3 separate regions of the Homo sapiens genome follow, and regions 1 and 2 are each linked to region 3. Evidence: fine-mapped expression QTL. A gene starts in region 3. Each other region holds a variant in brackets. All regions are shown on one strand. Distances are between the middles of the regions.

Region 1 (2,752 bases), 65 kb before region 3:
TGCAGTGGCGCGATCTCGGTTCACTGCAAGCTCTGCCTCCTGGGTTCACACCATTCTCCTGCCTCAGCCTCCCGAGTAGCTGGGACTACCGGCACCTGCCACCACGCCCAGCTAATTTTTTTGTATTTTTAGTAGAGACAGGGTTTCACCATGTTAGCCAGGATGGTCTCGATCTCCTGACCTCGTGATCCACCCACCTTGGCCTCCCAAAGTGCTGGGATTACAGGCATGAGCCACTATGCCCAACCTCACCCAGGTAATTCTTTTAATTAATGAGAGCCCATCTCTACTAAAAATAAAAAATTATCTGAGCATGGTGCCTTGTGCCTGTAGTCTCACCTACTCTGGAAGCTGAAGCAGGAGAATTGCTTGAGCCTGAGAGATTGAGGCTTCAGTGAGCTGATTGCACCACTGGACTCCAGCCTGGGCAACAGAGTGAGACCTTGTCTCAAAAAAGAAAGAAAGAAAGGGGCCAGGCACTGTGGTTCACAACTGCAATCCCAGCACTTTGGGAGGCCACGGTGGGTGGATTACTTGAGGTCAGAAGTTTGAGACTAGCCGGGCCAACATGATGAAACCCCGTCTCTACTAAAAATACAAAAATTAGCCTGGCATGGTGGCGCATGCCTGTAATCCCAGCTACTCGGGAGGCTGAGGCAGGAGAATTGCTTGAAACCGAGAGATGGAGGTTGCAGTAAGCTGAGATCACTGCACTCCAGCCTGGGTGACAGAATAAGACGAAAGAGAGAAAGAGAGAGGGAAAGAAAGAAAGAGAGAGAGAGAGAGAGAGAAAGAAAGAAAGAAAGAAAGAAAGAAAGAAAGAAAGAAAGAAAGAAAGAAAGAAGAAAGCAAGAAGGAAGGAAGGAAGGAAAGAAAGCAGCAGAAAAAGAGGAAGGAAGGGAGGAAGGAAAGAAGGAAGGAAGGAAGGGAGGGAGGGAGGGAAGGAAGGAAGGAAGGAAGGAAGGAAAGAGAGAGAGAGAAAGAAAATAGACACACACACAACTCCACAAAACCCACAATTCAGACACACAGCTCACACACAGGTCTCCAGCATAGACATATTTATACATCCGTTTACTCAAACACTCACAATACAATCACATAAAACAGGCAGACAGTTCACATGCCAACACACTCTTGCACAGACACGCAAACAGAAGCATGGAATTTGTACAGAGCACGCTCACAGTGTCTGATCCATAACTCAGACACGGAGTCACGCCCACAAAGGCACAGTAGAGGCAGAGTTCACACACAAACAGACCCGCGGGGACCCACGACACAGCCCTCTGACACGAGGACGCCAGGCCAGGGCAGCGTGGGAATGAGGCTGCAAGGAGGGAGTGAGGTGGAGAGGATGACT[C/T]AGGAGGCCTCTCTGGGGGAGGAGGAGGGAAGGGGGAGGAGGGCAGGCATCCAGCGCATGTGGTTCCTATTAGGGGCCTGGGAATTGAGGCATGAGCTGGCGGGACAAGGAGACCCAGGAACGCTTCCCAGCCTTACCAAAGCAGGAAGGAGCAGGGCCCTGATCTAAGGCCATGCGGCCGGAACTTGGCTCAGAACCACAGCCGTTCTAAGGCAGAGTGGTCTGCCCCAAGCCAGGCCCAGCAGGGGGCTCATTTCAACCCCTGCGATAGTCCTGGAGAAGATTTCTTTTTATTTTTTCTTCTTTCTTTCTTTCTTTTTTTTTTTTTTCTGAGACAGAGTTTCGCTCTTGTTGCCCAGGCTGCAGTGCAATGGCGCGATCTCAGCTCACTGGAACCTCCACCTCCCAGGTTCAAGCGATTCTCCTGCCTCAGCTACCCGAGTAGCTGGGATTACAGGCTCCTGCCACATGCCTGGCTAATTTTTGTATTTTTAGTAGAGACAGGGTTTCACCATGTTGGTCAGGCTGGTCTTCAACTCCTGACCTCAGGTGATACGCCTGCCTCGGCCTCCCAAAGTGCTGGAATTACAGGCATGAGCCACCAAGCTGGGCCCCTTTCTTTCTTTTTTTGAGACAGGGCCTCACTCTGTCACCCAGGCTGGAGTGTGGTAGCACAATCACAGCTCATTGTAGCCTCGACCTCCCCAGGCTCAGGTGATCCTCCTACCTCAGCCTCCCAGGTAGCTGGTACTACAGGTGCACACCGCCACCATGCCCAGCTAATTGTATTTTTTATAGAGATGGGGTTTCACCATGTTGCCCAGGCTGTTCTGGTCTTGAACTCCTGGGCTCAAGTGATCAACTCGCCTTGGTCTCCCAAAGGGTTGGGATTACAGGCATGAGCCACCCGGCCTGGACTTTTTTCTTTTTTTTTTTTTTTTGAGACAGGGTCTTGCTCTGTCGCCCAGGCTGGAGTACAGTGGTGCAATCATGGCTCACTGCAGCCTCGACATCCTGGCCTCAGGCAATCCTCCTTGGAGGGTTTCGTAGGGGAGGAAAGTGACATTCAGAAAGGTGAAGCAACTTGCCTGAGGTCACACAGCAAGGAGGTAGAGGAGCTAGGATTCAAGCCCTTGTCTCTGTGCAGCCTCCTCTCCCCACCTTGTAGTAGAGGCCAGGACCCCTCCATTTAAGCTACAAGCAGAGATCAAGAACTGACACCTGGACCAGGCTGCACTGGATTTGTGGCTCTGAAACAGCCAGCTCTGGCCAGGCGCGGTGGCTCTTGCAAGTAATCCCAGCACTTTGGGAGGCCAAGGCAGATGGATCACTTGAGGCCAGGAATTTGAGACCAGCCTGACCAATATGATGAAACCCTGTCTTTACTAA
Region 2 (2,752 bases), 50 kb before region 3:
ACACACACACACACACACAAAACAACCCAGCTGGGTGTGATGGTGCATGCCTGTGGTCCCAGGTACTCAGGAGGCTGAAGAAGGAGGATCACTCGAGTCCCAGAGTTGGAGGCTGCAGTGAGCCATGATCATGCCCTTGCACTCCAGACTGGGCGACAGAGTGAGACCCAGTCTCTAAAAACGAGCAAACAAGGGCTGAGCGTGGTGGCTCACATCTGTAATCCCAGCACTTTGGGAGATCAAGGCGGGCGGATCACCTGAAGTCAGGAGTTCAAGACCAGCCTGGCCAACAAGGTGAAATCCCATCTCTACTAAAATTATAAAAATTAGCCGGGTGTGGTGGTGCATATCTGCAACCCCAGCTTCTAGGGAGGCTGAGGCAGGAGAATTGTTTGAACCCGGGAGGCGGAGGTTGCAGTGAGCCAAGCTTGCACCACTGCACTCCAGCCTGGGCGACAGAGCAAGACTGCGTCTCAAGGATAAATAAATAAAACAAACAAACAAACAAAAAAATTTAAAAAAGAAATACACAGAGACAGAAACACAGTTCATCAGTTTATTCTCAGATTTGAGATGCAAATTATGCCCTATGGCCTGGCGGTGGGGGGCCAGGCTTGGGCTGGAATCTCTCATCATATCCCAGCCTTCCCTAAGGAGGAAGCAGATGAAATCTACAACAGGGGGGACTTTCCCTTTTAATACAGACCCAGGTATAAATAGGGCAGCACCATTAGGATCCTGATTCACCCCCCCAACATCTTGGTCCCCAAACCACCTGGCATGGCAAGGTGAGCCTGGGGAGGTGGGGGGCAGGGGGAGGGGATTTGCAGAGCTGGGCTGAGGCAGGAAAAGAAACACAACCCAGTCAAGGGAAGTCCCTCTTCCCTCTGTAGTCCGACCTCAGTCCTTTCACCGTGGAAGTAGAAAGGATCAAAGGGGGTGGGGGTAGGGGTCCCAGCCTGGGATCAGGAGACATCCAGTGCTTAACTCTGGGGAGGGGTAGCACCAAAAGGTGTGAAGGGCAGCGACGGAGGAGTGAGGAGGCAGGCATTGGGGGTGGGGGGGCTTTTGTTCATCAGCTCTGAGTTAGAAGCTCATTGCATGGGGGTTCAAGGGGTGGGGAGGTGAGGCTTGGGTGGGGAGGGAGGGGAGAAAGAGCCAGACTGCAGTATGCCACCTGGAATGGGGTGAGAGGAGGCTGGACCCTTGGGCCAGGGAACCCCAGCCCCCAGCACCCTGGAAAGGAGAAGGAATGACTG[T/A]CCGTGATGAGCGAAGTCACATCCCATTGGCTCCATAGTCACAGGTAACGAAAAATACGGTGGCTTCAAAGCCTCAGCACCAAATGCACCCCATTCTGGGGCTCCCTCATGGTCCCTCCCACCCCGGACACTCTCAGCTGCTGAAGCAGACGGGGCCCAGTTCAAACCCAAACTTTTGGTTCGTCTGGCCAAAGTCAGTGGCCGCCACATCCCACAGGGGCAGAAATCCCGCTCGAGAAGAGCTGAATTCGAAAAGGGTCTTCGTCTGTCCTTTCCGGAGCTGTCCCCAGAGAAGACAGAGACGGTGAGTTACCGGGAAGGTGGCCGACATCTTGCCTCCCCTCTCTAGCTGGCCACTGCCCCACCCTCTTACCCGGCAGCCATCCTGGGGGACGCTGACAGTGGCTGCTGTCGTCTGGTTGAAAGACAGCTCCTCTCCATTGGTGCCAAGGAAGCGGGCGGAGTGGCTGTAGTCACCCGTGGCTTCGTCCAGCCAGGCAGCTGCATTCTGGCAGGAGTAGGTGAAGTTCTGGCGAGCTGTGGCACTCAGCAGTTTCAGGAAGTTCAGCTGCACGACATTCACTGGGGACCCGTCGGCGTCCACGTAGGAGAACTGGTGAGAGGAGGGCAAGGCAGAGGATGAGGGGCTCCATGAGCCTCTTTCTGCAGAAGCCACCCCCTGGAATCTCCATCCACTGGCAGACAAGCCACCCCCCCCATGTCACCATCTCTGAGGAGGTCCCACCAGCCACCTAGAGATCCCTGGCAGAATCCCAAGAGTCACCTGAACATCCACTCTGTCCACCTCTCCATCCAGTAGGCCTCCATGCCCACTCCATCTGACCTCCCAAATTCTGATTGCTTCATCCACCAATCCAGGGTTTTAACACACTCATCCCCACCCAGAAGACACAACTCTGCCTCCACTCTTGTGAGTCGCTGGATCTACAGAGCTCACTGTCCCTGATACCAGATTTCTGCCCTGTCCAATATGGCAGCCACATGTCTAATAGCCACGTGGCTTTTGAGCACTTGAAATGTGGCTGATTTGAAGGAGGGATTTTTTTTTACTTTATTTAATTTTTTTTCCTTTTTTGGGGGGTAAGGGTTGGGATCTTGCTCTTTCGCGCAAGTTGGGGTGCACTGGCACAATCCTGGCTCATTCCAGCCTCCATCTCCTGAGCTCAAGTCATCCTCCCATCTCAGCCTCCCAAGTAGCTGGGACTATAGGTGCACACCACCATGCCTGGCTGGGACTTTTTTTTTTTTTAACTTCATTTAATTTTTTTTTTTTTTTTTGAGACGGAGTCTTGCTCTGTCGCCCAGGCTGGAGTGCAGTGGCATGGTCTCAGCTCACTGCAAGCTCCGCCTCCCGGGTTCACGCCTTTCTCCTGCCTCAGCCTCCCAAGTAACTGGGACTACGGGCGCCTGCCACCACGCCCGGCTAATTTTTTGTATTTTTAGTAGAGACGGGGTTTCACCATGTTAGCCAG
Region 3 (2,752 bases):
CTTGAGAAGCTACGCCATCCCCTGACTCCCGAAGCGCCCCCCACTCTGAACCCTGAGGGGCGGGACAGGGCGCCCAGCCAGATGCGCGCAGCTGGGCGTGCGTCAGCGCTGACTCACCCATCCGGCGGCCCCCGGGACCCCTTGGGGGCTCCTGAGAAATTCCTCGGGAAAAACACCCAAGGCTCCAGCAGCTGGGGTGGGGAGGGGGGGAGCAACTTCCACTCCTGCCCCGCCCTGCGCCCCGCCCCGTCTCGCCCCTCACCGCGGCCCTCCCCGAAGCCCTGTCCATGGTGCTGATCGCGGCTCTGGGGACCGCGGGGTGGGGGAGGGGGCAACAGGGAGGGAGGGGAGGAGATGGGCGCTCGCCAATTTGGGGCAGAGGAGGAAAAGGGAGAATGAGGTGAAGCCATTTAAAGAGACGCAAAGGAAACTGTGGGTTCCCGAAGAGCACCCCCCAATACTTGTCCCCACCCACCTTCATCCTCATGGGCAATTATTTGCACCCAAAAATCATAACTACACCCCTCATAGCGGCACTCAGAGACACACAATCACACGCATAACCACTCACACGGTTACCCTCGAAAATCAGCACATAGACAAGAGCACAAGTGCATACTCACCTGTCGCAATACACACCGTCCCAGCACTGCCCTGTCACTCACAGTCACACTATCACCATCAACCTCCACACGCAAGCACATACGCAACTTCACTCCAAATGCACACACATGCTACACACACATACACACATGCACACACCTGCACATTGCATGCATTCCCACGCGCTCGCCAGAAAACGCACTCACACATCCCCACCCCCACCCCGAGCTGTCACACCCACAAATCACCCAGAGTCAGATACTCATGCGCCCACATCACACCGGGGCCGCACGCGGCGCCCACGCCCTTCCCCTCCACGCCCCTCCACCCCCCTCCACCCCTCGCTCTTTTAGAGCCTCTCTGAGTCGTGGACCCTGGGTCCCATCTCTTCCCTCCCGGCTCACCGGCCTGCGTCCCCGGCAGAAGCTGCAGCGCGGCCAGGAGCAGGCAGAGACCGGCCCGCGGCTGGCCCAGGTCCCGGCGGTTCCCCATCCCGGCGGGGCCCACGGGCAAGGCGGGGAACCAGTCGGGGCGGCTGCGGGGCGCGGCGACTTCTCGGGCTCGGTGCAGTCACTCGCGGCGGCCGCTCCTCTCAGGGTCCGCGGGAAACTGCCCGAGACCCCGCCCTGGCCTCGCCCTGCGCTCCAGCGCCTGGCCAGGCGGGGCTTTTTGGAGGGGGAGCGCTGACAGCTGGACTGGGAAGTTGGGAAACTTTGTGCTGAGGGCTGATTGGCTGGCTGGGGTGGAGCCCAGCGCCAGGAGCTGGGTTGTTCCTGCCCCACCCCACTGTGGAGGAGAAGGGTCACTCCCACCCAGCCCTAGAGTTCGAGGGTTCCAGTCTTACCCCAAACCTTTTCCGCCTAGCAGATCCCCTCAAAGGAGACCTTAACCTCATTCAAGACTTCAGCCTCCATCCAGGCCCTAGAATTAGGAGGAGGTGCAGCTTTATACCAAATCTTTTTTATTTTCTATTATTTTTACATTTTATTTTGGAGACAGGGTCTTGATCTGTCACCCAAGCTGGAGTGCAGTGGTGCAATCATAGCTCACTGCAGCCTCCAACTCCTGCGTTCAAGCCATCCACCTGCCTCAGCCTCCTGAGAAGCAGGTACCACAGGCACACACTGCCACACCCAGCTAATTTTAAAATATGTATATTTTGTAGAGACCGGGATCTTGCTATGCTGCCCAGGCCGGTCTTGAACTTCTGGTCTCAAGCGATCCTCCGGCCTTGCCCTCCCAAAGCGCTGGAGTTACAGGCATGAGCCACCGCCCCTGGCACCAAGTCCTTTCTGCCTCACTCAGGCCCCCAACTGGGGTCCCAACCTCACCCCGAACTCTCACTCACCTACCTGCTTTATCCTCAGTCCCTCAGCTGCACAATAGGAGGTACCAGCCTCAGCCCCAAAGCCTTTCCTTCAAGTCCCTAACGGGTCCTCATCCCACCTCAAATCTCACCCCAGATCCCAAAATGGGGTCCCCAGCCTTACTCCAAACCTTCATCTGTCCACTCAAATCCCTAAGTCACGTGTCCTGGTCCCAAATTCTCACCACAGATCCCAAAACACAGTTTTCACTTTCCCCAAATTCTTGATTCCTCAAATAAAGGGTCTCATCTCCATCCCTAACCCTCATCTCCCCCCGCCCCAACTCAGGTCTCCAGTGGATGCCCCGGCCTCAATCCCAAATCCCCACCAAATGAGGGAGTCTGAGCTGGGTGCGGTGGCTCATGCCTGTAATCCCAGCATTTTGAGAGGCTGGGGCGGGCAGATCGCTTGAGTCCAGGAGTTAGAGATCAGCTGGCCAACATGGCGAAACCCCATCTCTACTAAAAATACAAAAATTAGCCAGGCATTGTGACTGGCGCCTGTAGTCCCAGCTACTTGGGAGGCTGAGGTGGGAGGATCACTTGAACACGGGAGGTGGAGGTTGCAGTGAGCTGAGGTTGTGCCACTGCGATCCAGCCTGGACAACAGAGCAAGACTCTGTCTGTCTCAAAAAAAAAGGCCGGCGCGTTGGTGGGAGGTGGTGGGAATCTGTCCCTGTCGCAAAGCAACGCACAGCCACTGGGGAGGAAGGGGTGGATTCTTGCCATTCTTGGGATGAGGCAGAGGCCCCCCTCACCGTGCTGGGACCCCCACCTCCAGCA

The links. PIP is the estimated chance that this variant, and not a neighbour inherited with it, causes the effect.
Region 1: its variant is fine-mapped to the expression of COL5A3 in fibroblasts (GTEx, PIP 0.99).
Region 2: its variant is fine-mapped to the expression of COL5A3 in iPS cells (HipSci, PIP 0.92).

Annotation. Positions count from the first base shown.
Region 1 is chr19:9,944,281-9,947,032 of GRCh38, forward strand. No RefSeq gene overlaps it. Among named protein-coding and RNA genes, the nearest start is that of OLFM2, 9.1 kb to the left of the region's middle. The variant C/T (reference allele first, on the strand shown) is at 1,364.
Region 2 is chr19:9,959,019-9,961,770 of GRCh38, forward strand. It overlaps COL5A3 (collagen type V alpha 3 chain), which reads right to left. Exons shown (of 67, transcript NM_015719.4): 66 at 1,633-1,872; 67 at 543-1,539. The coding sequence ends at 1,393. Among named protein-coding and RNA genes, the nearest start is that of OLFM2, 24 kb to the left of the region's middle. The variant T/A (reference allele first, on the strand shown) is at 1,260.
Region 3 is chr19:10,009,291-10,012,042 of GRCh38, forward strand. COL5A3 (collagen type V alpha 3 chain) reads right to left here and starts at 1,214. Exons shown (of 67, transcript NM_015719.4): 1 at 1,008-1,214. The coding sequence starts at 1,095.